7 linked regions of the Homo sapiens genome follow. The protein of the gene in region 1 purifies or fractionates together with the protein of each later gene. This does not show direct contact. Each region holds a gene or a part of one and is shown on either strand. Other genes may lie near its edges.

What was found.
Region 2: the proteins of NGLY1 (region 1) and OSTM1 purify together in Homo sapiens (co-immunoprecipitation; one large-scale study listed by IntAct). This does not show direct contact.
Region 3: the proteins of NGLY1 (region 1) and ENPP6 purify together in Homo sapiens (co-immunoprecipitation; one large-scale study listed by IntAct). This does not show direct contact.
Region 4: the proteins of NGLY1 (region 1) and SCARA3 purify together in Homo sapiens (co-immunoprecipitation; one large-scale study listed by IntAct). This does not show direct contact.
Region 5: the proteins of NGLY1 (region 1) and TMEM87A purify together in Homo sapiens (co-immunoprecipitation; one large-scale study listed by IntAct). This does not show direct contact.
Region 6: the proteins of NGLY1 (region 1) and GGH purify together in Homo sapiens (co-immunoprecipitation; one large-scale study listed by IntAct). This does not show direct contact.
Region 7: the proteins of NGLY1 (region 1) and NHLRC3 purify together in Homo sapiens (co-immunoprecipitation; one large-scale study listed by IntAct). This does not show direct contact.

Annotation. Positions count from the first base shown.
Region 1 is NC_000003.12:25,762,663-25,766,770, forward strand, and holds part of NGLY1 (peptide-N(4)-(N-acetyl-beta-glucosaminyl)asparagine amidase), read right to left. Parts: intron 1,650-4,108; coding exon 1,404-1,649; intron 1-1,403. UniProt on the Homo sapiens protein: Specifically deglycosylates the denatured form of N-linked glycoproteins in the cytoplasm and assists their proteasome-mediated degradation. Cleaves the beta-aspartyl-glucosamine (GlcNAc) of the glycan and the amide side chain of Asn, converting Asn to Asp.
Region 2 is NC_000006.12:108,053,895-108,058,002, forward strand, and holds part of OSTM1 (osteopetrosis-associated transmembrane protein 1 precursor), read right to left. Parts: intron 694-4,108; coding exon 596-693; intron 1-595. UniProt on the Homo sapiens protein: Required for osteoclast and melanocyte maturation and function.
Region 3 is NC_000004.12:184,214,784-184,219,609, forward strand, and holds the start of ENPP6 (glycerophosphocholine cholinephosphodiesterase ENPP6 precursor), read right to left. Parts: upstream 3,091-4,826; 5' UTR 3,037-3,090; coding exon 2,796-3,036; intron 1-2,795. UniProt on the Homo sapiens protein: Choline-specific glycerophosphodiesterase that hydrolyzes glycerophosphocholine (GPC) and lysophosphatidylcholine (LPC) and contributes to supplying choline to the cells.
Region 4 is NC_000008.11:27,639,963-27,644,070, reverse strand, and holds part of SCARA3 (scavenger receptor class A member 3), read right to left. Parts: intron 1-4,108. UniProt on the Homo sapiens protein: Seems to protect cells by scavenging oxidative molecules or harmful products of oxidation.
Region 5 is NC_000015.10:42,228,327-42,232,434, forward strand, and holds part of TMEM87A (transmembrane protein 87A isoform 1 precursor), read right to left. Parts: intron 3,590-4,108; coding exon of another isoform or gene 3,518-3,589; intron 2,935-3,517; coding exon 2,866-2,934; exon of another isoform or gene 2,796-2,865; intron 495-2,795; coding exon 386-494; intron 1-385. UniProt on the Homo sapiens protein: Potential monoatomic ion channel gated by mechanical force, implicated in normal touch sensitivity through the generation of mechanically activated currents.
Region 6 is NC_000008.11:63,028,349-63,032,456, reverse strand, and holds part of GGH (gamma-glutamyl hydrolase isoform 1 precursor), read left to right. Parts: intron 1-2,239; coding exon 2,240-2,290; intron 2,291-4,108. UniProt on the Homo sapiens protein: Hydrolyzes the polyglutamate sidechains of pteroylpolyglutamates. Progressively removes gamma-glutamyl residues from pteroylpoly-gamma-glutamate to yield pteroyl-alpha-glutamate (folic acid) and free glutamate.
Region 7 is NC_000013.11:39,041,224-39,045,331, reverse strand, and holds part of NHLRC3 (NHL repeat-containing protein 3 isoform a precursor), read right to left. Parts: intron 3,228-4,108; coding exon 3,027-3,227; intron 1,243-3,026; coding exon 1,151-1,242; intron 1-1,150.

The sequences.
Region 1 (4,108 bases):
AAAAAAAGGGCTGGGTGTGGTGGTGCACATCTGTAATCCAGCACTTTGGGAGGCCAAGGCAGGTGGATCACTTGAGGTCAGGAGTTTTGAGACCAGCCTGGCACACATGGAGAAACCCCGTCTCTACTAAAAACACAAAAAATTAGCCAAGTGTGGTGGCAGGTGCCTATAATCCCAGCTACTCGGGAGGCGCAGGCTATAGAATCTCTTGAACCCAGGAGGTGGGGGTTGCAGTGAGCCAAGATCGTGCCATTGCATTCTAGCCTGGGCAACAAGAGTGAAACTCCGTCTCAAAAAGAAGAAAAAACAAAAATTAGCCAGGAGAGATGGTGCATGCCTTTATTTCCAGAAACTCAGGAGGCTGAGGCACGAGAATCACTTCAACCTGGGAGGCAGAGGTTGCAGTGAGCCAAGATTTTGCCACTGTACTACAGCCTGGACAGAATGAGACTCTGTCTCAAAAAAAGAAAAAAACAAAACAAAAGAAAAGAAGTTTAAACAAGATTAAGAAAATGTGAATGGCTTTCCTGAGCCAGGACACTAACAAAATACTACTTAGCCCAGGAAAGAGATATTTTGTAAAATAAAATGTTTGCAAGCTTTTTTGCAGATTGGTTAACTATGTGCATTTTAAACTATAATACTGCAATTAAAAAGATAAAGTAGGAAATCTTAAAAGATATATTCTAACACTGTAATTGGAAAACTCCTAAGAAAAGGTGTTAAAAACCAAGAAAGATGTTAAGTGAGCTTCTGTAACTGTACCAACCTTAACTGCAAAACTGATGAAGACCTAAGGTATTCAAAATGGAATGCACATGATCTCAGGGAGGGGCATAAAAATCCATTGAGGTGCTTGTTAGACTTACAGAAATATCACAAGAATTTTTCTGACAGTAAAAACTTAGGAGAAGAATATGTAAGGACCTTGGTCAAAAGAGATTTTTGTAAACAGGATAATTTCCTATCAAATGGAATCATTTCAGTTTATCAAGAATGCCTGTAAGTTTGACTTTAGTTCTTCACAAGTATATATGGTGTATATTAATAATAAAATTTCACTAATTTGCTAGCATCCACTATCATTAAATTAATGCATTCTTAATTACCTTAAACCTAAAGAAGCTTTTTTATTGAATTAAGGTATTGATAATGGTTGTGCTGTTGGAAATAACCCCCACAGTGAAAGGCAGCAGGTACAATTTAGATCAGAAGTATTAATGCAGTAGAGGAAATCTGACAATTTTTTAAAGAGCTGAAGAAATTTGGATGTTTTAGAGTTATAAGAACTAAGAACAAAATATGGGGCATAAATTCAGGAATAAATCATAACACATTCCAAAGCTTTTGCTGTTTCAACACTTTGAAAGAAACAGTTAAAGAAGGTTTAATTCTAACATTACCGTTGAAGCAGATGGTGGATCTGATGACTGCCCTTGACGGTTCCTTGTGTGCTGGTTTAACCCACTGGGATTTGAAGATGGTGTTGTAGGAAGCTGGGTACTGGCTGCAGGTTGCTGAGATGACTTTACTTTGTGGCTCTTATTTGAGCCATCCAGTCTGCTACTTCTCTCTATGGCAATCAGGTCACGAATTTTTTGCAGCTGCTCCACTGAAGCTTTTTTAGGAAAGATGAGATGTGTTTCTCCCTGGAATTTATAAAATTAAAAAAAATGTGAACCTTTGCTTTATGCAGTCATTCTTTTGTGCACACACACACAGAAATGTATAATGAAACCAATAATATAGAATGCATGTTTCTAAAATCATACTGTTTTCTTACCATTATGGTTCTTTTTAAATACAGCCTAAGGTAAATAATGCCTAAACATAAACCAGAAAATTAAAAAAAAAATTATCTCCTTTTTGGCATTTAATCCTTAGCCTATTTAATGTGGTTCAAAGGACTTTCAGGAAAAAATATTTGATCTTCTAGAAACAATAAGTCAGAAGGCCTCATAAGGGTTGCAAAAATGCATATTCCTATCCTCTCTGCAATAGTATATGATACTACTATTCTCTATGAAATTCCCTATGAAATAATAATGACAGTAGAGATACAGCCACACAAAAGAATCCAGGGTCACATAAAACCAACAAGAAGTTATCTAACAACCTTTGAATCTTGTTAATCTGAGTCTTTAAAGAATAGCTACATGATTAGAAGCCTGTGTATGGGGTCAACTAATTTTTCCACGATAACGAAAAGTACACCCTGATAGTCAATCCAAAACTATGGATGGTTAACAGTAATAGGAAGGTAATCCGAACAAAACAAAAGAAATAAAAATCATGTATTTCAGTAGTGACTCATTTAAAGAATACCTATAAATATGCTAAGAATGCTTTAAAATAAAATGCTACAACAAATTCTATAATGTAAAACAGTAAATTACTCAAAACAAGAAAAAAGGTGAAATGAAATGACAATGTATTTGATCAAATTTCCAGGTATTGAAAAGAAACAATGTTAAAAACAGTAATTTCTCCAACTGCAAACAAGATAAAAAGTTGCAGCTGGGCATGGTGGCTCACGCCTGTAATCCCAGCACTTTGGGAGGCTCACATGGGCAGATTACCTGAGGTCAGGGGTTCGAGACCAGCCTGGTCAACATGGCAAAACCCTGTCTCTACCAAAAATACAAAAATAAGCTGGGCATGGTGGCGGGTGCCTGTAATCCCAGCTACTTGGGAGGCTGAGGCAGGAGAATTGCTTGAACCTGGGAGGCAGAGGTGAGCTGAGATCGTGCCACTGCACTCCAGCCTAGGTGACAGAGCAGGACTCAGTCTCAAAAAAAAAAAAAAAAAAAAGTTGCAACAGTCTGTAGTACACAGACCTGCAGATCATGAGCATTTAAATTAAACTCCAAAATCGACAATATTACTGTATTTCCCTGGTGATGGCAGACCTACAGGAATCAACTGAACAAGACATTACTCAATGACATGAAAGTCAATTCCATCTGAATCCTTTTTAAAAAGCTGGATTAGACCAGCAAGCTCCACGTATGATTCATAATTGCTATAAAAAAGACAACTACAATGTATTGTCTTTGTGTGTTCTAAGTACTGTGCTAGGCATTTTTTTCTCTGAGGCAGGGTCTCCCTCTGTCACCCAGGCTGGAGTGCAGTGGAGTGATCAAAGCTATAACCTCAAACTCTTGGGCTCAAGCGATCTTCCATCCTCAGCCTCCCAGCAGCTAGGACTACAGGTGCATGCCACCACACCTGGATGATTTTTATTTTTTGGAGAGACAGGGGTCTCACTCTTTTGCCCAGGCTGGTCTCAAACTCCTAACCTCAAATGATCCTCCCACCTCAGCCTCCCAAAGCAAAATGCTGGGCGTTTTAAATACATCATCTCAAGTAATACAACTACCCTGAAAAGTAGGTATTAGATTAATACTTTTTTTTTTTTTGGAGACAGAGTTTTGCTCTTGTTGCCCAGTCTGGAGTGCAGTGGTGTGATCTCGGCTCACTGCAACCTCCACCTCCCAGGTTCAAGCAATTCTCCTGCCTCAGTCTCCCAAGTAGCTGGGATTACAGGCATGCGCCACCACACCTGGGTAATTTTTGTATTTTTTAGTAGAGACAGGATTTCACCACGTTGGTCAGGCTGGTCTCAAACTCCTGACTTCAGGTGATCCGCCCACCACAGCCTCCCAAAAAGCTGGGATTATAGGCGTGAGCCACCATTCCCGGCCAATACTCACATGAAAATACAAAGGCTCAGGGAAGTTAACCTGCTTGAAGCCACAGAACAACTGGCAGAGCAGGGATTCAGACTCCATGACCTTAATCGTTATGCTATAAATGACTCCATCTTTGACTGAACAGAGACTGAAACCCATGAGCTTGCACAAATAGTTGAAGGGAATGAGCGGAGAACATTTGTACAACTGTAATGATTAGACGACTGGCACAAATTGTAACACAACGACTTTTTCAACCTTAGAAAGAATCTTCTTATATCTAGGAGGAGGCCTAGGAAGAGAAACCAGACATCTGGTTTAAAACCAAATATGAAGGCATCTGATCTCATAATGTTACTGGAACAGCACTGAGAAAGGCAAACAACTCCATGGACAGAGAAGGAAAAAGAGCATGA
Region 2 (4,108 bases), on another chromosome or scaffold:
TCAAAACTACATTTTAACCAGAGTTCCAACCTCGTCCTTCACCACGACCGGGCAAGTTCCAATACCAAAATTCAAGAGTCAGAGATAGAGATGGCAATAATCTACAAGGTTAAGATTCTTAAAGCTACCTTTTATTATCATAATTCAATACTCAAAGTTATCTTACTAAACAGTGCTTTTTAAGGTAGGTAAAACATACTTAAGCAAATTTCAGGCAAAGAATAAACTTCCTATAGACAGAATCATACTACACTGCAAAATACCTACGTAAGTCAGATTGAAAACCATTGTGTTTTAATTAAACAATCACACACCTCAATCAATGTTTTCACAATCATTATCTCACCAGATTCTCATTACAAAATACTTTAAGATAGGCAGGATAGATATTATCTCCATTTTACAATGAGAGAACTGAGGTTTTCATGATTTGTAAGTAGAAGAACTTACTTAAGAGCAGAAATCCAGGTCCACTAACTCCTTTACATCATGAATTTAGATAAATATCAATAATTAGTGCTCTAAAAACTTGGAACTGCACATTATTCCTTTGTACAAGGCAGCATTTTAATTTTAAATATTATATATAAAATACCTGAAGGTTATGTTCAAAGCAGGTCAGGGTGTGATTAAATAGATTAAGGAAATATACTGTGCTGTTTGATAATTCTTCACTGTTGTTTGTTAAACAATCTGTCAAAAAAATTCAAAAAGTATATTAATATAACTCAAGGAACAATTCTATGTTGTCATTTATATCTTAAGCTATCAGCTTCGTTTCACACTACAGTAATTCTTTATTCAAACAAGCATGAATTTTCCAAATATATGAAGCTTACTCCTTTTATTTTCCAAAAGTTAAAAAAGTCATAACCATTTTCATGAACATGTTAAAATAATCACATACTCTCTTTTCATAAAAATATACCAAATAAAATTCAAATGGACTTTTGATGGCACAAGGTCATAATCACGGAATATCAGCTATCAAATGCTGCCTTAACAGTGCTATTTAGGCATAAGACTGTTTACCCTGCATTAATTTTACCGAAACTCATATGCCTTATCATTTTTTGTGTCAAATTTCATAGTTCTCTGCATCTTCCAACTTCACTAATGAGTCATTTATTGTACCTAATGGGGTAACTTTTAAAATTCGCTCTTTCTAATCCATCACGAGTTGGGAGCCCAGAGAAACAAACTGGTGAGAATTTTGCCTAAAATACTGACGTGGGGGCTTCAAGTAAAGTCTAGAAACAAAATTGTTTTACATTTTTAAAAATCCTACATAAATGGTATTTCTCTGCAACTGGCTATTCTTGCTTAGAGTTAGCTCAAGTTCACTCATCCCTTTTATTTTCTATGTATGTGTATATCACAATTTATGTATCCATTTTCCCTTCTTCAGGGAATAATCTATTCTTCTTTTTTTTTTTAAGAAACGGGGTCTTGCTCGGTTGCCCAGGCTGGAGTGCAGTGGCACAATTTGCCAGCTCATTGCAGACTTGAACTCCTGGGCGCAAGTGATGTTCCCACCTCAACCTTCCAAAGTGCTGGGATTACTTAAAGGCATGAGCCACTGCGCTCAGCCAGGGAACCTAGTCTTTATCCTCAGGTAAACCTTTGTCTTTACCTCTCCTTGTGTTCTCAGCCTGCTATCTCCAATCGAGGTTCAACTGCCTGGTTCCAGATCTTGGAACTTGTGGTCAGTCGTTTCCATCTGACTCTCCTAGAATCCTTGCCCTCTTTATCTTCCACATATTCACAGCCATTTTCATCCCTGGACAGTCCCCATCTACTTTCTGTACTCTCAGTCTGGTTACAGAATACTACTACAGAAATTCTAAAATGATAATGAAGGGACTCAATTCAAATTCATGTGTTCTGATCTCGGGGCAACAAAATGATCCTTGTAGATGCCCTCCTAATTGCTCTGCAAGGGATGTTCCACATATTTTCTCATCTCTAGTCCCAGCCCTACTCTTGTTCCCCTTAATTTCAACAGATGGCTTTGTATTATGCCCACCTTATTTAGAAATTCAGGGCCATCAGATAGGATCTCTCTCAACTGGAAGTGGAAAGACAACATGCAAAGCTATTGCAATTACCCAGGAGAAAGGCAGCAAGGCAAGTAGAATTTGTGGAGAAAAGAGAGACGGACTAGGTAGACACTAGGATATGACACACTAAGGGACATCCATGTACTCTGACAGACAACAATTACTACAACGAAAGTTAACACTTACTAAATACTTGCTATGTTCTAAGAACTATGCTTACACTGCACTTTAAACACATTTGCCCATTTAATTCTTGCAGTGATTCCATGAGGGAAAAATTATCATTATCTCCATTTTATAAATAAGGAACAGAGATAGGTTTAGATAAATTAAGGAAGTTGCCCAAGGACATAAAACTGGTAAGTAAAAAGCTAGACTCTGTACTCAGTCTGATTCTTGAGCCTGCACTCTCAAACACTGCAAAATAAACATATTTATATCTACATTCTAAACCATTAAAAGTTCAAGACTCGGAATCTACAAATACATGCCACTGCCTACTCCCTCCACTACCCATAGATATCTTACACCATACAGGGATTCAGGCAGTCCCCACCAACTGATCAGAGTTAGCAACTGAGATGAAACCTAAACCTGGTAGACAGGGGCAGACAGCACAGTAAAGCTCCTTTGTGCAAATCAGAAAAAGATATTCCCTCTGGGTAGATAAATTACAAAAGGTCATTCCTGCCTCCAGAAGCTAAGCTGGAATTCAGCCCCATTCACCTCCTTGTACAGCCCCCTTGTGCAGGGCTCCTTCTGCACCCATTGTACACAGGATCCTCTTGGTAAACCTATTTCAGGAGTTGTCCCCTCTCTGAACTCACATACTCTACATTCTCTGAAGCTTTATCTTCTCCAGAACATGAATCTCATTCTAACTTCTCACCCTTATTTAAAAAATCTGAGGGATCACTACAAATTAGGAAACTAAGCCACAGAAATAGGTGATATGCTGATGATCATACCACAAGTTAATAAGCCATTGATATAAAAATAGGCCAGCATGGTGGTTCACACCTGTAATCCCAGCATTTTGGGAGGCAGGTGGATTGCCTGAGTCCAGGAGTTCGAGACCAGCCTGGGCAACATGGTGAAAACCTGTCTCTACAAATAATACAAAATTAGCCAGGCATGGTGGCGTGCATCTGTGGTCCCAGCGGCTTGGGAGGCTGAGAGGGGAGAATTGCTTCAGCTTGGGGAGGTCGAGGCTGCAATAAGCTGTGATTGCGCCACTGCATTCCAACCTGCATGAAAGAGTAAGAACTTGTCTCATTGCCCCTCTTAATGCTAGTTTAATATCATCATGAAGTAGCCCGCAATCCTTTTAGGGATGAGGCAGAGTTGATATAAATAAAAACAAACAATTACATAGTTTTTGTACATGTTTACAAAAACAATTATATAGTTTTTGTAGTTGATGTGTTGCAGGGAAGTTAAGGGAACACAATTTCATTCACAACAGTTGTACATCTGTGTTATAATGAGCTATGTCGTGACAACTGACATAACAATATAGGGATAAAAGGGGTCCACATACTGCCAGCAAAAGTAGTATAAAGTGCATTATCATGAGAGAGCAATAGCAAATTTCTTCTATGCAAGATACCTAATTAAAACAAATAATTTCTTTTGCAAAAGCAATTTATAAAGAAAGCTTCTCTGAAGAACAAAAGAACTTAATTTCTTTTATTAATAATTACATTAATGCATTACCATCAAAACTTTTTCAATGATCATTAGATGGTGGTAACATAAAGCATAAAGCAGTTCATTTATATAATGGGGTTAAAAAGTCTTCATTATTAAAAAGCCATGACTTTCTGAATCGAAATAACAGATCTCTAGTAAATTCCTTTTTTATCTTTTTGCAGGAATTGGGAGCTTAAGATTATAAACAGTGAGAAGCTGTATGTTTTAGAAATTGGTGAGTTAAAGAATATTAATAATAATAAAGCTTCCTTTAAGCACTAAGTGAAGTGGTCATTATGAATTTCCTTCATCTTAGATAATCAATGGAGCCTCATCAAGGGCAGATTAGCAGAGTG
Region 3 (4,826 bases), on another chromosome or scaffold:
GAACACATGGACACAGGGAGGGGGACATCACACACTGGGCCCTGTTGGAGGATCGGGGGCACAGGGAGGGAGAGCATTAGGACAAATACCTAACGCATGCAGGGCTTAAAATCTAGATGACGAGTTGACAGGTGCAGCAAACCACCATGGCACATGTATGCCTCTGTAACAAAACTGCACGTTCTGCACATGTGTCCCAGAATTTAAAGTGAAATAAAATAAAATAAAATTCCCCATGCATTGCCTAGTTCTATGTCTGCATCCAGCAGCACCTGAAATCCCGGCCTGATGCAGCCCCGGCAGTTCATCTCATTTTATTTTGCCTGAAGTCTCCAAGCAAGTTCTCCCAGCTCAAGGGCCAGCATTCTTTCCAACAACTCATCACTCCTCGTTATGCAAAGGGAAGAACACCAAGGGCTTTCTGTATTCTGAGCAATAATTCGGGTAATGAAGTGAGAGCTTAGCCTCTCTTGTGAATGCTGAGGAACCCTAAAACAGCATATCTTTTGCTTCCAAAAAGATCTAGCATAGCAATTTTGTTGGTTCATAAAATGCTCAAATGCTCAAACCATATGTTTAGCTACAATTCCCAATGGCTATATCCTTCTTTATATGAGTAAAAGAGGAGGTTTTCAGCATCAGGTGGAAAAATAAGTATGGGTATTGGGGAAAATAGTCTAAATTTAACTCTGAGTCAGTTCCAAGACAGTGGAGGTGATACCAGGTTCATGGCCTGGCATTTCCCAGCCTGCGAATTCTGCTTCAAGTCTGCAAGTCTGCCCAGTAGGTACAAGACAAATCATACCCAAGGACATTTGTACAGAAACATGAGCCTTGCTAGATCCCTCCCTTGTGCAGGGTAGCTTCTATGAAACATATAGACCAAGCAGACTTCCACATCAGTGAATACATTTGGCCATCTGAAAATACAGAGACTTAACACATATGGAGACCTGTGGCTTCCTCGGGCCAGCCTCAGTTTGAAAGCAAGGGTGAGATCTTTGTCAGACACTCACGGGACCTGTGCTGCCCATAAAGGAAGGGGCCCTTCTCTCAGGACAGCACAAGGGAAAACACCCACAGCCGGAAAAGAAGGTGTGTCTCAGCATGACGGAGGCTGTGTGCAAATTATTCCTTGTGCCAATATCAGGAGTGTGGATCTGACAAACAAAAGGCCATGTCATTGGCTTAGTGTCTCTGTGGAGTCTGTAATGGTCCTTTTACTTACTTGAGTCCTTTCTAAGATGGATTTTGTTCATTTTCCACTAAGATTGCAGAAGCTGCACGTGGCGTGGCAGTTTATGAATTGGGTCCCCTGGCAAGGCTCTGAAAGACAGCTGGAGTGGGGGTGGGCTGTGTGTGTGAAGCCGCTGCACAGAGCTGGAGTCGGCTGTCCACACAATCACGTCTATGTGAGAGCCGGCAGCCTGCAAACTGCTTCCCTGCAAGGGGAGACACATGCCAGGGGAGGGCCAGAGAATTTTGTTAATTCTGTTTATCTTAGAGACTGTTTTTTTGTCTGCTGGGGGAAATAAAAAACAAATACATAACTTCCTTGCTTGTGTGCAGTCTGATTTTTTTCTCTCTCTCATGCCCTCATTTTTATTTCTCCGAAGTATCTCTCCCCTTCAGTTTGGGGCATCAGTTTATGGCATTTTTCCGTACATGTGTATATAGTATCTATGCACAAAGTCAGAGATATAAATGTCTGTTTTAGACTCTTTTGGCTTTAGTGTTCTGTGGAGGTCCATGAGATATCAGAGATCTCATTTTCTTTCTGTTAACATAATTAGCAGAGCTCTCTCTGTGCTCAGAGTGCATAGCTGAGTCCCGCATAACCAGCAATAACAGTGCATTCTTAGCAGCCTCCCTGGATAGTTTGCTAAATTCTTTCTGAGAGCCTCTCGCTGCCTTTACAAAGGTTATAGCTGAAAAACAAACCAGAAACTGGGAATCCAACTCTGTGAGCAGAGAGAGGGCTGCACATTCTATTATCGCACGGATAGAGGCTCAGGTTCATGCAGTCGCGTTTGGAGTCCTGGCAATTTCAGATGAAGGCCGTCCTTAGGAAAATCAGCTATCCCAAGCCCAGGCAGTCTGGGTTAGCCGAGGTTTTTGTTTGTTTTGTGGAGTTTTTGCTGGTTGGTCTTTTGTAGATGCTGCAAATCACAAATGGGGAACCTGAACGACACAAGCTTTTTCTTCTCCGTATCATTTTACCTGGCCAAAAAGGCAAAAGAAGGGGAAGGTGGCATTGCTAAGTCACAGGGAAGGATATGACCTAAACATCCCCCCTTCCCCAAGTAATCCGGGAGCACCACTCCCCTCTGAGGACCCCACAGGTACTTTCACAGTCCAACACACTGAGAAACAAGCCCACAGGGTGCCAGGATGACATGACCACAGAGAAAAGGGACAGAAGGAGTTTGGGACACATGCACGGACACCTGTTGCTTTTGCAGACTTGAACTTAGAAAATATGAGCCTCATTAGAATTTCTCTTTCTAAAATAAACGACCACTTTTAATATCGTCAAATATCATGTACTGCTATAGTTCTCTGTCCTCCGCACTGAGAATCCAAAACAGGTCCTTGGGATAACTTTTGGGAAACAATACCGCCACGAAAACAAAAGTCTTCTCAGCCAAGAACACAGATTTTTTTTATCTACCTTTGATGTCCCAAAGGACTAGAGAATCCAGAGCATTTAAATAAGACTCCAATGCCAGGAGCTCACTGTTCCCTGCTGGATGCCAGCCCTCCCCTCCCTGCCCAGAAGAGGACATGGTACTCACCAGTCATTAGGGTATAATAATTGGGATACGAGAGACTAGGGAAGTCTGGAGTCAAGTAATCCACTTTTACTCCCCTGCTCACAATCTCTTTGAAACCAGGCAATGACTCCAGCGCCTCATCACTGATGTAGTCTGAGCGAAAACCATCCAGCAGAAACACCAGCAGCTTCCGGCGGGCAGAGGCTGGCTGGGCCAGGCCCAGGGCAAGGGCCAGCAGGAGGGTCCCAAGCTTCACTGCCATGCTGCCAGGAGCCTGCCAGAGCCCGGCTGGCACAGCTGTCGCCTTGCAAAGACTGAGGATGGAGAATCTGTAGCTATTCTCTCTTCCAGGGGCTGGACCTTGAGCCGCTGGCCTTCCTGAGTCAAGTTCACTTGCAGAATTTAAAGGAACAGCACCCCCTTTTCCACACATCTATGCTCACCCTTTACTAGAAAGTCCAGAGACCGACTCCTTCAGATAAACTGGGTTCCAAACAACCCAGAATTAACACCAGGGGAGAGAGTTCAAACTTATTATTTTTGGTGAACGTTCCAGAAATACAAGCACCCACAGAGGTGGAATTTTAGAAGATGACAAAGTCAACACTAACTTTGCAGTTGAGCTAACCAAAGGGAGGAACCAAGGAAAAGGGCAAGATTTTAATTTGCTGTTATCCCACATCATGGCCTCATTTAAACTCTTTTTCACTTAGAATTTAGTAACGCAAACCTCTGGACTCAGTGCATAAACAGGAAACAATACGTTTCGGTGGGCCCATTTGTAAACTTCCCAGCTGTGTCTCTGTAGACACAGCACTTAAAAAAGTTATTTGTCTATGTCTTGGCCACTTATGTTTTTATATGCAGTGTTATTATTTGTTATTATTTTATTTTTCAAATGTGATTTAGCTGCTGGTGCCCATAGGAGGAGGTGGTTCGTAGAAGAGCCCTAGAGCCAATGAGAAGCTTCCAGAGTTGGACAATGGGAAATCATTACTGGCAGAATGGTCTGAAGCAGCATTGCCCCAGGAGGATGGAAATGAAATAGAGAGCTGGAGATTGAGAGCTTGAGATGGAAAAGCAGAGCTAGAAATTACCATGCAGGCTTTGGGACCGAGAAGACTAGGCGGAGTGGAAAATAGGAGGAGGTTAGTGACAGGGAGGCAGATGTGAGCTGGGGAGCAGACAGAGTTAGCACAAAGTACCCAGAGTCCAGGGGTTCCCTAGAGTGGCTCCGTCATGCTACATAAAATTAAACAACACAATTCATGTGAAGGCTTATAAAACATGGCTGAGTGCAGTGGCCCACTTTGGGAGGCCAAGGTGGAAGGATTGCTTGAGGCCAGGAGCTTGAGACCAGCCTGGGCAACACAGCAAGACCCCATCTCTATAAAAAATTAAAAAATTAGCTGGGCCTGGCGGCACGTGCCTGGTCCCAGCTACACAGGAGGCTGAGGTGGGAGGATTGTGTGAGCACAGGTGGTCATATCTGCAGTAAGCTGTGATTGTATCACTGCACTCCAGGCTGGGCAACAGAGTGAGGCCCTGCCTCAAAAAAAAAAAGACATAAAACATGCATGGTCCATAGCAAGTGTTGAACAAATGTTAGATGTTATTCGCATTATAACATTGCTTGTCTCCTGAGGAAACTTGCAGGCTCTGGGCAAACTTTCCAGGGAAGGAAGATAGACACCAGCCACACCAGCCACTCTCAGTCAACCCCAAAATCCCTCTTCCACCTCTGCCCTCTGCTTGTGTCTTTTCTCCTTCTCTTTTTCTGTTGTATTTGAGTCAAGCCCAAACACAGGATCACCATGTCACTTTTTAAATTATGCTGCAAAAGAGAAACACATTGGCCAAATTACCACTCCCCTCTCAGGGGACTTGGCCAAGGATCAGAATTCTTTTTTCCAATAAGAGGTAATGCTTTTTATAATTAAATTTAAATTTTTTTCTTATTAAAAAATAAGGAAAAGGGGAGTTTATCCTAAAAGGTTGTTACTTTGAAAACAATGTTATTCTTTTTTCTTTGAGCTGTGTGGTATTGTTGCT
Region 4 (4,108 bases), on another chromosome or scaffold:
CTGCTCTCACAGAGCCACGTAGCAAGTTTGATGGAGGGTGCATGCCTTGGCACATTGCTAAGCACGGCCACTGACTCCACTGGGGTTGAGCTTGGTTCAGCTCTCCCTTTGGGGGTAGAAAATAGCCCGGACCTGTTAACCAACTGCTAACTCAACTGTGGTCACCAATGCCGGCTTTCTTTTGGTTGACCAAAAATGTGTCCTTGGTTCCCTCTTTCGCCTTTCTGGGACTGCATTCTTCCATCTGAGTCAACAAGGGGGAGAGATTCGAGGAACTGAATAAAAGGTCTTTCTTTGGGCACTTCAAGGAACATATTTTGATAATTATCTTCTGCAGGGTTCACAGAGTGGGTTTTCAAAACAGCCAATTGGATCGGTAAAAATAAAGATTTCAGAGTCTTCTCTGGAGCCAATGCTATATTTAAAGTGCAGAATAGCTATTAGTTTAAGGTTGGAGAACGCTATAAGTAAGGTTGCAAAATTGTTTTCATTAGAGCCCTTCCGCCACTACCCCCTCTCCACAGGCTTCCTTTGTGGGTTTGTCTGTAATCGGTTGGGAATCCGCCTGCCCGCTCAGGTCTCAAGACACAGGTCCTTTCCCTTCAAATCTTCTTGCTCAACAAGTTGTCCTTTTCTGCTTCCGTGGCTCTGCCAGTTTCTCTCCTCCAGCACTCGCCCCTTTTTTGGTCCCCATCCTCAAGCTCCTGCATCCCTAAAGCCACATCTGCTGCTCTGAGACAGGCTTCCCTCCCGGTTCCTGCTACCTCCACCTGAATCCCTTTGGCTGCCTCCCACCCTGTTCTTGGTAACCACAGAGGTTGTGGGTAAATCCCTGCTTTATCCTAAATCCCCTTTATCCTAAACAACTTTCTTGCCCTCAACTTTTCTAACTTGGACCCTATTCCAGGTGGTGCAATTCTTCATTAGATGAGCACGGCCCACTCTGCACAGACATTCAGCATCCTGGCCTTGCCCGCTAAAGGCCAATAGCAATCCCTGGTCATTGTGACAACCCCGAATGCCCACCCATTTCTAAATACCTGCTCGCAGGCTGGTGCTGCCTCTAGTTGAGACAAGAACCTAGGCTACTCACTCAATGCAACAGACTCCCCCCATTACTTACACACTGATCTCCTCTCTGTCCACAGCACCAACCCCCCCGACTCCCCTGAACCCCATGAATTCAGAGGGATGGGAGGGGTGGGAATCACTGGCTTTCTTTTCTTTTCTTTTTTTGTTTCTTTTTATAGACAAGGTCTTGCTCTATTGGCCAGGCTGGAGTGCTGTGGTGCGATCATGGCTCAGTGCCGCCTAGACCTCCCGGGTTCAAACGATCCTCCCACCTCAGCCTCCTAAGTAGCTGAGGCTACAGGTGTGTGCCATCACACCCAGCTAATCTTGCTTATTTTTTGTAGAGACAAGATCTCACTATGTTGCCCAGGCTGGTCTCAAATTCCTGGCCTGAAGTGATCCTCCTCCCTGGGTCTCCCAAAGTGCTGGGATTACTGGCATGAGCCACCATGCCTGGCCAGGAATCACCAGTTCTCTTGATCCCCGTTGTCACCCCTGATCCTGCAAATCCTACCCTGTCTCGCATGGGCACCCCACTTCCCTCCTCTGAGTTTCATGTTCCTTATGCGTAAATGGTGGGGAGATCGTCCGCTTCAATGAGCTGCTGTGAAAATCCAATGAGACGTATATGAAAAGTACCTGGTACATCGTAAATGCTTAATAAATAGTAGTAGCAGCCACTTTTATTAGGATTATTTTTCTATCCTATTCCAATTAATGCTGCCATTTATTGCCATCTCCCAACCCCCATCACTCCCAGGACCAATTTCCAACTTACAAGAAATCAGTGTTTCAAAACATATCCTATGGGACACTAGTCCCAAATTATTCTTTGTGAAAAAGGATTATTTGATCAAGTAAGTGTGGAAAACATGGCATACTCTATCGCCATCTTAGAGATTCACATTCACATAGTAAGCATTTTGAAAAGTCCTGCCAAAAAAAATAATAAGCCCATTTAAATCTGTGTTTAACTCCACGTTTCTCAGACTTATTTGGTCATGGAACTTCCTGCAGATCTTGAAAAATAAATGTATCTTTTAATTCTGGGACCTATGTTCAGAGGCAGAGGGACTCTGACTTTAGGGAACACTGTTCTGGACAATGACATCACCTGGATTGGATGAATTCTTCATTCTGTCTCCTGCCATCAACTTGAATGGAAGCAGCTTTTCTGTTGAAACTCAGGGCTCTGGACATGGGATTTACTGTCTCATCTCTACACATCCTGCCTGCCCTCTGGAGCTTAAGGCTTATTGCTGTTCCATCTGCTTGATCTCAAGCCCCTTGCCTTCTTCATCCCCAATGCACTCAGCCTTTCCTCGCTCTCCTTCCTCCAAGTTCTCATTCGCCCTGACCTCCAAGCCCAGCCCAGTCCCCAAGGGTTGAGTTCTGCCCCATGGAGCCTGTAGTTCTCTCTCCTGGCCATGGTCCCTTCCATCCTCAGCCTGCTTTCTTCGAATTGCACTAGAGAAGCCTGGAGCTGCAGGAGAGTGTCAGAGGGGGGCATGCATTTGGCTTCAGCCAAGTCCTGCCATCTGGATCCTCACTTCCCATTCCTGGGTTCCTCCTCAGGTCAGCCCACCTCATTCCCCAAAGATGAGCTCACCCCCTCCTTTTCTGAAAGGATCAAGACCATGAGGTTCCAACTTCTTTCTTTATCATCCACTAACTCTGTCCAGATGCCTACACTTCAAACCCAGTCTGGGGGAGGGATGGGGAAAGAGGCCTTCTCGTGCATTCTGAGTAGCCTGGCACCCTCTGTCAATACTGCAAGGGCGAGTGCCCTTTGACTCAGTAATCCTCCTTCTAGGAACTTCATGTTAAGAGAATAATTACACAATTAGGCCAAGGTGTATGTGTAAAGGTGATCACTGCATGCTATGATAAATCTGAGGGAAAATGCAAATAGCTAAAATGCCCATCTCCAGGGGATTGGTTACATAAATGCTCGTAGAGTCTTACTATGGGATGTTATGAAACCATTTTTTAAAAATACTGCAAGCTGGGTGCAGTGGCTCACGCCTGTAATCCCAGCATTTTGGGAGGCTAAGGCAGGAGGATCACTTGAGCCCAAGAGTTTGAGATCAGCCTGGGGAACAGGGTGAAACCTCATCTCTACAAAAAATACAAAAATTAGCTGGGCATGGTGGCATGCATCTGTAGTCCCAGTTACTTGGGAGGCTGAGGTAGGACAATTGCTTGAGCCTAAGAGGTTGAGGCTGCAGTGAGCCATGATAGTGCCACTACCCTCCAGCTTGGGCAACAGAGCAAGACTCTGTCTCAAGCAAAGAAACAAACAAACAAAAACAAAAGCAACAACTAAAAACCAGCACTAAGAACAAAAACGCTAAGTAATCGGGAGGCTGAGGAGGGAGGATTGCTTGAGGTCGGGAGCTTGAGACCAGCCTGGGCAACATAGCGAGACTTCATCTCTACAAATAATACAAAAATTAGCTGGGCATGGTGGCACCTGCTTATAGTCCCAGCTACTTGGGAGGCTGGGAGGATCCTTGAGCCCAGGAGGTCAAGGCTGCAGTAACCTACAATGGTACCACTGCACTCCAGCCTGGGCACAGAGTGAGACTATGTCTCAAAGTAAAATAAAATAAAAATAAAAATAACATGGATAGTGTAATCTTATCTACATGAAAAAAATCTGTGCAAACATACACAGAATGATTTCTGAAGAATGTTCATCTACATTTTGTCATTTATTATCTCTACAGGGCAGGAGTTCACGTGAGTGAATGTTTTTCCTTTTTGGAATTTTTTGATTTTTAAAAAAATAATAAATGTGTTATAAAAAGGTTAAATGCAGCTGCTCGTAATGCAGAGTCTATGTCTGTAACCATCTTTTCTCCTTCCCTTGCCTCCCGATAAAGAGATTCTTTCTTCTCAAAGCAAGTCTCCCTCAATTCCACCGCTCTGTCCCCAAGTCCCCCCATGCCTCTTCTGTCCCTCCCCCTCCCAATGAGCACGGGCCATCCCTGCCTTGAAATCCTTTGAGCTGGGCCCTGCCTCCCACTCTAAGGAC
Region 5 (4,108 bases), on another chromosome or scaffold:
ACCACTATAATAGCAATGCACCCTAAAATTCTACAACTATTTAATAAAACTAAACAAACATGTGGTAATGTCTTCTAAAAGGAGTACTCTCTGGCACTTAAGCTAACTAACCTCAAGAAAAAGAATGCCTCAAGAAAGAATGCAAATAGAAGAGGGATAAATGAAGAGCTGAAATATGAGGTTGATTTCCAGCTACTGTACATAAAATAAATGGTTCTCAACTTTTTAAAAACCACAGATCCTTCTGAGAATTTGACAAGAGCTAAGAACCCTTTTCCAAGTGAAATATACAAAACTTTCTATGTCCACCCATGGCCTTTCAGGTTAAGAATGTCCATTCTAAACAGATCACATTTGAACTCCAAGAAGAAAGTCCCAGACTTACCTGCCACTGCCAAAATAAGCGTGTTGGTGAAATGCCGATACAAAGAGAGTTTTACAATGTTCCTCCGAAGTTTTAATAGCTTCATTGTTTGAGTCAGGCTAATAAATATGTGTTTGCAGGTCAAGGAATTCAACATTCAGGAAAAAACAGTAAGCTAGCCAATTAGTTTTCAGGTTTCTTTAAGGATCTGGGGTCATGCCAATAAACTTATAGATCTCTCAGAGGCCTTATAGCTCTCTTATTCTCACTTAATCTCACAAACACCTCAAGATGAATAAGAAAGTCATCATTTTATTTTCTTTTCCTTTTTTTTTTGTGAGGCAAGGTCTAGCCCAGGCTAGAGTGCAGTGGCACAATCACGGCTCACTGCAGCCTTGACCACTGAAGCTCAAGCGATCCTCCCACCTCAGCCTCCCAAGCAGCTGGGACTACAGGCATGTGCCACCATGCCTGGCTAATTTTTAAATTTTTTTGTAGAGATAAGGTCTCGCTATGTTGCTCAGGCTGGTCTTAAACTCCTGACCTCAACTGATCCTCCTGCCTTGGCCTCCCAAAGTGCTGGCATTACAGGCACGAGCCACCATACCTGGCCGGAAGTCATCATTTTCAATGAGACATTAAAGAGAAGACAGAACCAGAATAAAGTAAGAATGTACAAAATCACAAGAGAAAAAATATAAAAAAGAGAAAGGAAGAGGCTTTCTAGAGAAACAAAAAAAAAAGACAGAAAATAAATAGAGAAATGGCAGAAGATAAAGTGAACATGAGTAACAGGCAAGGGACAAAGAGTTAACATCATCTTCTCTCTCCCTTTAAGGTGGGTAGCTCTGTTCTCATCTGTCCAGCAAATCTAGTTGAGGGTCATAATTATACTCGTGCCTATAATCTCCCAGAGATCTACACTCAGTCCCCTCATGCCATCTTAAGGAACCTGCCATCAGTTGCCTGCACTATCCTGAATTAAGAGGACCTTACAATTGGTTGAGAAGCTCATATGGTTTGCTTCCAAAAGCAATGACTCTCCATTTTCAGAACATTATTCTCAAGTAGAAGTTGCCAGAGAAAAACAGGAGGGGAATTGGTGACTACTAAAAATGGTATCTGCTCTCACGTTCAATGTTCTTTTCTTTTTGAGACAGGGTCTCACTCTGTCACTCAGGCTGGAGTGCAGCGGTGCGATCTCGGCTCACTGCAACCTCCGCTTCCAGGGCTCAAGCAATTCTCCTGCCTCAGGCTCCCGAGCAGCTGGGACTACAGGTGCAAGCCACAATGCCTGATGAATTTTTGTATTTTTTGTAGAGATAGGGCTTCGCCATGTTGCCCAGGCTGGTCTCAAACTCCTGAGCTTAAAGCAATCTGCCCATCTCAGCCTCCCAAAGTGCTGGGGTTACAGGCATGAGCCACTGCACCCGGCTCAATTTTCAGAATGAGAAGCAGATACAAAAATAAGGGATTTGGCACTTGCTCTGCCCTTACAGAGCCGTAGCTGTTACCTAGTCATTGGGTTATCTTACTGTACAATCCATTCCCACCTCCCTCTTCTCTCAACGCTTGCAGAGGTTCACAAAACACTTAGAAAGATACTAATCTAGAAAAGCTTTGGCTATTTAGTCCAAGGACACTTTAACTGAAAACTCTTATACAGCAACCCACTCAAATTCACAAAACAATTTTGTTTACATTCACAGTTTTTCAACAGTCACAATCTATCAGGTCAGTAATAATGAAAACTGCTAATAGGACCAAATATATAAAAACCAAAACAAATTCAATAAGATAAAGTCCAAAAACTTGAATCCTTTAGCCATCAGGCCAAGCCCCTAATATATAAATTTAATTTTAAAGAGCAGGAGAAAAAGATTGCTCAAATAGAAGCTTGTTTGTTATCTGCTGGTTGACTCTGCCTGTAAATGAATCAATTATTTATTCTGAAGGGTGGAAATCTTCAAACAATTCCAAGCCAGCTTTTGAATGAGGCAAGAAAACACTCACTCCATAAGGGTTAAAACCTGCTGAACATACAGAGTTTCAGAAAAGTCAAAGCACCTTACATAGTTCCTGAAATCAAATTTTAAGGATCAAAATCTTTTCATAAGTTTCAAAGCATTTAAGAATTGCTAGAGGCTAAAAGGCAGAGCAGGACCAGCACAGCCAGTGACTCTAACACTAAATGATTAGGTACACAAACAAGAAGTGCAAAATCAAGATGAAATGCTCACTTAAAAGAAAAAAGCCAAAAGATTTTATCTCGAGCTCGGTCCACAGTCACCAATTTCCAATTTGATTTTTAAAATTAAAAAAATAGAAACAAAAAAAACTGCTTACCTGAACCCTCAGGTTGTTAAGACTTAGCATGCACTGTTCCCCACACTAAGGAGTAATTAACAAAACTGATAAAAACTCTTTGCAGAAAGATCAATGGAAACCCATCTCAAGGGGAGAAAATGGACCATCATCAAACAAGCCAATGAGAAGGATATCCACCAGCACAAGGCAGTGTCTAGGAAAGCCAAGGGGATAAAGGCCAAGGAAGCAAGATCAGTCTGGGCCTGCAGACAAAGAAAAAGAAGTGGTGAAAAACAGATGTCTAGAGAGGCACAGAGAAGAAACCACCACATGATTCTGCATTTACATAATCACTGGAAAGTTTTTGCATTGAACTGAAAGAAAATAAAAAGAACATTTGACACCTAATCATTCTTCCCTTCTTATAAACCATCACATAGAATATACAGCTATAAGCATTTCACATAAATTGTCATTTACAATCTCGAAACATACTGCTAAGTACGAGTTTTTCATATATAAAGATCCATGTTAACAAGTGACCATATTCCAAAAAAGTTCTAATGTTTATAAGCCCCATCCTTAATCTATCATTTCCTATTATTGCAATTTTGGCTACAAGTCTGAAAAGACTTTTCTCGTATTTAAAAAAAATTACTGCATCATATACAAAGAATTATTAATTTCTAAAATTATAATATTTTACAAATAAGAGCTCACCCCAAAATAAAATGTAAGGCAATTATCTGTCTGAAAAACTATGCTGCATGTTTCCAGGAGTTTATATAGAGTATGTTTTTTATATAACCCTAATTACCCAATCAACAGGCATTACTGAAAGGATATCCATAAAATAACACAGGCGTCAATTGCTGAGAGGGCCAGGTTTACTATCAGAGTCAAGGGATAAGAAAAATACTATAGCAACAGCAGAAGAAAGAAAATGAAATTGACAGAGGGTTAAAGTTGCTAGAAGTCTAAGAGAATTACATACAGAGGACAGTGTGATTTGAAAAGCAAATGTGCATCCACAAAGTGTTTGATTTAAGAGGCAATTTATTGCAAAACATATTGAGCCGTTTTCTTGTGGGCAAAGCCAAGTTTATAGTTTTTACAATATTGAATCTAATAGGTTGCTGTGGAGTCTTTTTTTAAAAAATAAGAAAATTAATTGAAATGGCCTAGAGAACCTTATACTTCTTCGTATTAATCCAGTGGTAACATAAATTTCTTTTCTCCTCTTTTTTAAGGAAGAGGTATCACTCTGTTGCTGGAGTGTAATGGCATGATCATGGCTCACCGCAGCCTGAACTCAATCAGTCCTTCCACCTCAGCCTCCCAAGTAGCCAGGACTACAGGCACCCACCACTGCTCCCAGCCATAAATTTCTTTATCACTTAGATTCTTTGGTTTCCTTCCCTGGCAAAGGGAATAATT
Region 6 (4,108 bases), on another chromosome or scaffold:
TGTGGGACTAGTGGAAAAGAGAATGTCCTGCTTCCTCAGAGGTAGCATACAGGAGCCCATGGACTGCTGCTTTTGGTTTAAAAACGTGTTTTGTTCACACAGCGTTTTAAAACATGAATCAGGCTGGGCGCGGTGGCTCACGTCTATTATCCCAGCACTTTGGGAGGCTGAGGTGGGAAGATCGCTTAAGTTCATGAGTTTGAGACCAGCTTGGGCAACATGGAAAAACCCCTATCTATAAAAAATTTTTAAAAAATGAGCTGGGAGTGGTGGCGTGCACCTATGGGCCCAGCTACTCAGGAGGCTGAGGTGGGAGGATCACTTGAGCCCAGGAGGTGGAGGTTACAGTGAGCTGAGATGGCGCTACTGCACTCCAGCCTGGGTGACAGAGCCAGACCTTTCTCAAAAAAACCCCAAAGACCACAAATCAAACTTTATAAGAGTCTGAATTTTTGTTTCTTTTGAAGACAGTTATCTAGATTGAGTTTTAAATGGGGCAAACACTCCCCATTGGCAACAATGCCTTACCATCCTTTTCATGCTGCTAAAGCTGTGTGTCATTTGCCATCATCACCAGGCTTAAGCCATTTCGTTACAGTTAAGGAGAGAGTAAACTGTTCCTCATACCTTGTTGAAAGGGACTTTTGTTTCAAAAAATGTCTGACAACATGCAACTAACAGCTGTATTCTCTGCCAGGGCCCCTAGGCACCAGAGTTGTGACATGGCACACTCCTTCCCCTGTGACAATTAGGTCTCTTAATAGAGATAAATGGGGACCAAAACTATAGTCATGGACAGTGTGGGAGCCATTTATTTAGAATTAATGAAATGACTGAAACTAGCTTGCACCGCTAGCTGGCAGGAATCCTTGGAGTGCAGCTGTGTGATCTAAATCCATTTTGGTCCCTGATGGCGATGGTTGCCCATTTTGGTTTAAATATCCATGGGGAGAATTCTGGGTCCTGACTGGCTGGTTCCTTTTTGTTGCCACAATCTGGGGAGATTAGACTGGCAGAATACTGGGTACATGTATATTGATATTTCACCTCCCTATCACTTCCCAAGGCAGGGCTACCTGTCAGTATTTTCTCCACTTAAGAATGGTAAGCACCATTCTGGTATCACCCATTGCTTTGTGGCTCTCGCCAGGAAGAGATTACTATGAACTTGTGAGAGACCTGGACTTGCAAAGCTTGTTTGGACTTAGAGTAGATCCCAGAGTTGTTTGCTGGCAAAACACAGCCTGTGTTCTGGATATCACAGGTGTCTAGTTAATAATGGGTGTGAGGGACTTTACCTCCCCCTAAAACTTCTTTGAGGGCAGAAATGGACTAGTTGACATCTAATCATAAGTCTACTTCTTTTAGGGCAGGTTGAGAGGACAGGTACCATTTATTCTGTCACAGAAACAGAAGGCTGCTAAATGTGGGAGAGTTCTTGCAAGGATTTCACTAACTTGGTGCTCTCTTCCCTTATTGTTGCATTTTATTGAACTTTCGGGAGAGCAGATATCTGTGACTTAGTAAATGTTGTCACCATATGTCACAGATTAAGCCCATCTTTTTTTTCTGGAGAAAGGGAATAAAGTCACCAATAACATGGCGATTGTTAGGAGGCCCTTAAGGGGTGTTTGATCAAGGGTCTTTCAGAGTAATTACCTGGGCAGTTAGGCTGTTCTACAGTCATCTCTCTGTGGTCCTCAGTTCAGACTAGATGTGAACCATCCTGACTTTGAAATGCAGAGTAGTCCCTAGACTGTTGCAACTAGTTTGTTGGGGTGGGATCAGGCAGCGACTTGGCATTTATTTATGCATTTTTTAATCTGCCAGAGCTTCCTGTAGTTAAATAGGCATGATAAATAAAGTTATTTAAAGGAGTCTTTACATAAAACTACTGAATATTCTTACATTTCTTTTTGTAGTTCTTGGTTAGTAGAGAAATTACTGGTGGCCAAATCTCACGGTCTTTACTGTTTTTGCATACTAACACATACTTCACAATATTAAATTGCATTAGATCACAGAAAAACATATTTACTTGTCTGATTAGCAAAACAAGGATAGAATGATGTGGCTTTCAAGTGGTTTGCAAAAATGCCTCTAGAAAAGTAGAGAGGTAATATTGTCTAGTAATTAAAAATTTGTTTTTATTTGGCTTTTTAAAAGTAAATGTGGAGACTTCATTTAGAGGTTTACTTCTAAGTTTCACAAATGTAACAATAACTTTTATTGTTTTCAGGCTGGATCTTACAGAGAAAGACTATGAAATACTTTTCAAATCTATTAATGGGTAAGTTGGCAGCATTGGTTTCATACGGTATATGAGTGGTCTACATATGTCTGCTTTTGTAAAAGAAATCATATAAATATTATACATGTTTCTATGTAACTGTCTTAGAGTGGTATAGTATTAGTGTTCTGAGTTCTTTTATAGGATTTATTTTCTTGGGAGATGCAAAAGTCCTTCAAAAGAGGAAGAGGCAGGTTAGGAAATGTATAATTGTTACATAGTAGACACACATAATTTTTTTAAATGTGTGACTTAATCTTTGTTCTTTTAATGCTTGTCTTAAATGTTTTGAAGCTACCTTGAATGGCGTGGCATACTGCTTGCATATGGGGTTTATAAGTCCAAAGTCTGAGGATGTTGATTTTTTTTTTCAGGTAAATTGGGAAAAAATATTCACCATTACTCTTAATTTTAGGAAAGAAGGCTAATTACAGCAATCAAAAACATTTAATTACCATGTTGGCAGAGATCAGAAAATTTGCTTATACTCTATGGGGCCTGTGAGGAAACAAGTGTGCTCATACTTTATTAGAGGGAATGTAAATCAGGTAGTCTTTTTTGGGGTAATATTGCAATACCTATTGAAATTAGAAACACGTATACCCTTTGACCTGGGAACTTGAGGAGGAATTTTATTTTATAAATATATTCCCACCTTGCATGAAGACTTAGACTCAAATCTATGCATTGTATTAGTAGTATTGTCTGACAGTCACCCCGTAATCCATCAGGTGAGAATTGGTTAAATAAAACAGACTATGTACATTCAATAGAATACTATGCAGGAATTAAAAAATGCGGCTATCTGTAGATGCTGACTTAGATCACCATTGTCCTATGAACAATGTGATAGTGTTATGTGAAAAAGGCAAGGCACGTGATGGTGTGTATAGCATACACCCCGTTTGCTTTTTGTTAAAGGTGGGGGTGAAGAGATATGCATATTTCTACCAAATCAACACAGCAGATTTTAATGGCAGTTGTTTCTGATTGGGAATAGGGTGGAAGTATTTTACTGTAAAATGTTTTTTTAAAAGAGCTTTATTATTTTTACTTCTAAAACCATGTTAATTTATTGTTTCTTTTAAAAAGCTATGTTTAGAAAATTATTTGCCTTCAGTTCAGTTTGGTTCAGTAAATATTTACCATAAAATCAGTTCAATTTAGTAAAACATTTACAATGCCCAGTATGTGCTGTGTGCAAGGTACTTTGGCATGGACAAAGATCATTAAGTCTAGGCTAGAATATAATAGTAGAACCTCAAAAATAGACCTTTTGAAACACTTCATTTTCTTCCCACCCTCTCCCCAGTTGCATTCCTGTTTGGAGAGGAATCTGAATCAAGTAGCAGTGTAGACAGGAATACATACTTTGGGGAGCTAGCCTGTCCAGATGCTCAGTATGTCTTCATGCAAACCAGCAAAAGGAGTCCATTTTCTATCTTCCTCACTCGTTTTCTGCATTGCCACTAATTGTTGCTCCTGTAGGCCCCTTTTCTCTCTCATGTAGTCACTGAAAGCTGCACTCCAAAGTGGGTTAAATTAGGGGCCTTATTTATATCTCTGAGTGTCACCAGAAAATGAGCCGTATTCTAATGTGACTTCAAAAGCACCTTTATTGAGTCACTGTTATGCAGTGGACCCCATAGTATTTTGCAGGGGAATGCAGAGATGAAAAGACAGAGCCATGCTTTAAGGAGTTTGTCATATAGGAGGGACAGTCAGGTTTTGCTGCATGAAAGGAGTTTGGGGTTAGACATACCGTATTTGGTCATAGGCAGCTTTTTAAATACTAAGTTAATGTCTGTAAGCTGGAGA
Region 7 (4,108 bases), on another chromosome or scaffold:
AATTTGATTTTTTTTCTTAGCACACAATGAGTCACCCAAGCTCAGGAGGATAATGTGCAAAAGTTTAATTCAAAGTTTCCAGTTCCCAATTTATATACAAAGTTCACATGGTTGATTAACGTCTTATGGCAGATCAGAAGATTTAATGATCAAAACATTCTCATTTTTGTCAATCAATTATGATTAGGAAGCCAAGTCATAATTAGAAGTTTGTTTGCTGAGCACTGAATCAGAAGTAGAAATGGATTAAATGCCTAATGGTATGAAGGCAAGTAGCCTAATGTACCCATTGTGTGTCAAGACATTTAGTCATTTAATAAATAAATATGACTACTGTGTACTAGGCACAAAGAAATAAAGCAAAAGAGATTCAGTAAGCACTTTCAACAGCCTGACATCTATTAGGGGAGACAGACAAATGATTATAATATAGCATGATAGTTACTATGATACGAAGTACAGGCTGCTATAGGAAAAGAGCAGGAGAAACTAATATACAAATTTTTTGGTGGCGGTTTCGTTGTGAAAAGGTAACCTCAAAGAAGTGAGATCTATGCTTAGAAATTGAGTAAATGCAAAAGAGATAGTAGTGAGTAGGGTAGAAAAGAGAGAAACTGATTGAAATTTGTTGGCTAAAGCTTTCTGTTCCCTAAACAATGTGGAGTTAGTGAGAACAAGAGTTTGCCTAGGTGACTCTTTTTCAGACTTCCAAGGTTAACCTCTCCCACTCCACTTTAGATCAGCACATTTTTTTCTTGAGAAGTGAAAAGATATTCAAACACTTTTAGTGGAGTTTTCCCAGTAAGAGGGCAACTTTTTCTTTCAGGTAACTTTATGTTCAGATCCATTATTTGTGCCTTCTATCCTTTTAAATGGTACAGGAAATCCATTTTGCTCCTTTCTAAATGTTTGGGGAACCCCCTCACTATAGGACTCAAACACTTGTAAGAAAGTATGTGTGCACACCCAGCCCCAGAGTAATTACCCAGACATACCCACTAACACACATGTATCCACATGCCCAGACACACATGTATACCACAATCTATATATACATGCCCAGACACACACACACACACACACACACACACACACACACACAAACATATTCAGACACAAAGTCCCAGACACAATGACGCTGTATTTGTACCCGACCAGCTGAATCAAGTGTAACACTGTGAGGTATGTTGAACTTAGCAGGCCCTGTCCCATTTTCTCCATGCAGCCAAAGGATCATGAAATCTATAAACGGTAAAAATATATAGTCAGAGCAACATATAGAATGTCTCATGCATTTGCATATTTTATGAAACAGGTTACAAAGAACTATTTAATTACACCGCTGGTTCACTTGACTATGCTTTCTCGGCTTTCCTGTCTATATGCCCATTTGCCCATTTCTTACAGTTTTTTTTTTAAAGTTCCTTCTCTGCTTTAGGGAATTAATCTACTTCTTTAATTATTATCTCCACTTGAATTTTTCATGACTGCTTCAAAATCATTGTTTAGGGTTTATGCCATCCTCTCCCTAAAACTGGTTCCCCTTCCCAACTTATCTGTTACTTGATATTAGTATTCCACAGACCTTAAAAATTCACATTATGATTTTACCGTCTATCTCCTTTATTACGCACTACGGTGGGTTCAACTGTGGTCCTTTAAAAAGATGTCCAAGTCCTAACTCCTGATACCTGGGAATGTGATGCTATTTGGAAATAGTTTTTGCAGATAAAATTAAATTAGGGATCTCATGAGATCATCCTGGATTTAGGGTGGGCCCTAAATCCTTATTAAGAGAAAGAAGGGAAAGACTGGAGGCACAAAAACACACAGAGAAGAAGGGGCCGCCATGTGAATATGGAGACAGACATCAGAGTTTTGCTGCCACAAGCCAAGGAATGCTTGAGCCACCAGAAACTAGAAGCGGCAAGGCAGGACCTTTAGAGTGAGCACAGTCTACCAGATTTCTAACTTCTGGATTCCAAAACTGTGAGAATAAATTTATGTTGTTTAAAGCCACGCAGTTTGTGGCAATTTGTTATGGCAACCACAGGAAACTAATACACTTATATTCAATCTGTCTCCTAGATTTCGTTGTTTCTTTCATTCAATTTTTTGGATTCTTGCTTTATCCTTATTCTACATTTCCCTTTCAACTGTTATCAACCAAATTCAGTTACTAATTGATAAATTGACTACACAGCCTCCAAATGACAGAGCTCACTTGAAGTAGATCCTAAAAGAATGTCTTATAAAACCTGCTGTTGTAACATCACTTTTCTACTAGGAAAACCTCAAAAATGTTATAGGCAAAAACATGGCTTTAATAATCCTCAAATAAGACTTCAGAAACATCCCAAATTGTATTTTCTGCTGCTGAAAAAGTGCATCTTCACCTTCTTTCCTGCTAATAAATGCCTGTAGACCATGCATGATAAACCCTCCATGAATGTTCCATCCATCCTCCCCTCTCCTCCCACCAAAACTAGTTTAGTTCAATAACTACTTCCTTCATGATATCTTGTTCTATTTCTCCAGGCAATTTAGTTTCTCCTCCTAAGTCCATTTTGCTTTAAGAATCAATAGCATAGACTACATTTCATTGTTTCAATACATAATAGATCTGCACCTCCTGATACTAGAGAGGACACAGAAAGGGCACTCAATAAAATGCTTGCTGATTAATCAGCCTGTAGGATACTTGAGTCTGGGATTCTAGGTTTCTAATTTCTACATGCTTAATTAAATAGGATACACACTTATCTCCTGAGCCCACTAGAAATTCTCATACTGTTGCCAGTTACTTTTGGAGGAATCTCCTGGCCTTTGGTGAAGAATAAGTGGGCCTGTTATCAGGATCATTTATTGTGGGCAATCATACCCATCTGTTTTTCAGTTTTCTCGTAGTAATACACTTAGCTCTTTACACACCGCTTCATACACAACACTTAAAACATTATACCAAATATCGAACAAATTAAAATCAATTTATAATATTTTTATAATACCATAAACAAGTAATGTACCTTGGGACAGTTTGATCAATCTGTTATTCAATCCTCCATCTCCATCCACAATGTAAATATCTCCTGTGTCCTCTACATATAATTCTGCTGGGTTATCAAACTGCAAAGGATTCAAACTAGTGCCTTTTTTGCCTGGAGTACCCAAGACTTGAACAAGATCACCAAAAGAACTGTATTTTTTAACAGTATGACCAAAGAATCCTATAAAGATAGATATGTACATCTCACAAATAAAACCACTATACAAACATTCAGATTTTTCAAGTAAGCTAAGAGCAAAAATTTGATAGAAGTAAATAATAACAAATAGGTGATAGGCTTAGGAAATTACATATAATTGACAAGCACTATAGCTTCTTCGTAAATTACAGCCAAATTTGATCACGAATTAAAATCTCCATTAGTCCAAAATAAGCGGATTCTAAATTCAAATAAATAACATCCCCATAATTGACTCATTATACAGGAAACTCAGAATGCTAACAAAGTATTGGTGCACCATTTTCTTTTTTAATCTTATGACCTTGAATAAGCATTGCTTATGAAAGGAAATCAAGAAGAAAATGTAAAGGGAACAACTTATATTTGAAACTGTTATTTCAATCACTCACATACAGACCTTAAATTTCAGTAAGTCAACAAAAACGTTCTCTATGGTACAGATTTTTTTTTTAACTGCATTTTCACCTTGTGGAGACATTCAAAATTCAACCCAACTTTTCTTTGCTAAGAAGAAAATAATCTTTGTAAATCATGAGTATCTTATTTTCTCACGTTAAAATTTCTTTAAGTTAAAATTATCTTACAAGCAAGAGCATAAAGCAGACTACTAATAAGGGAATATCATAAAGCAGTGAACAGAAATCAATTTGAAGGTACATATGCCAAATTAATTGATAGGTATTCAAAAGACAAACTGGATACATTGAGCTTACCAGAAAGAAAGTGAATCAGCTTGCATTACAATTCTATGTTAAATAATTTATTTACTATTACACTTTTAGACAGTTGAGCTAAAGTTCATAGCAATAAAAAACACATAAGCCTCCAAGTTTCTAAAAACTAGCAAAAAAGACTACCAA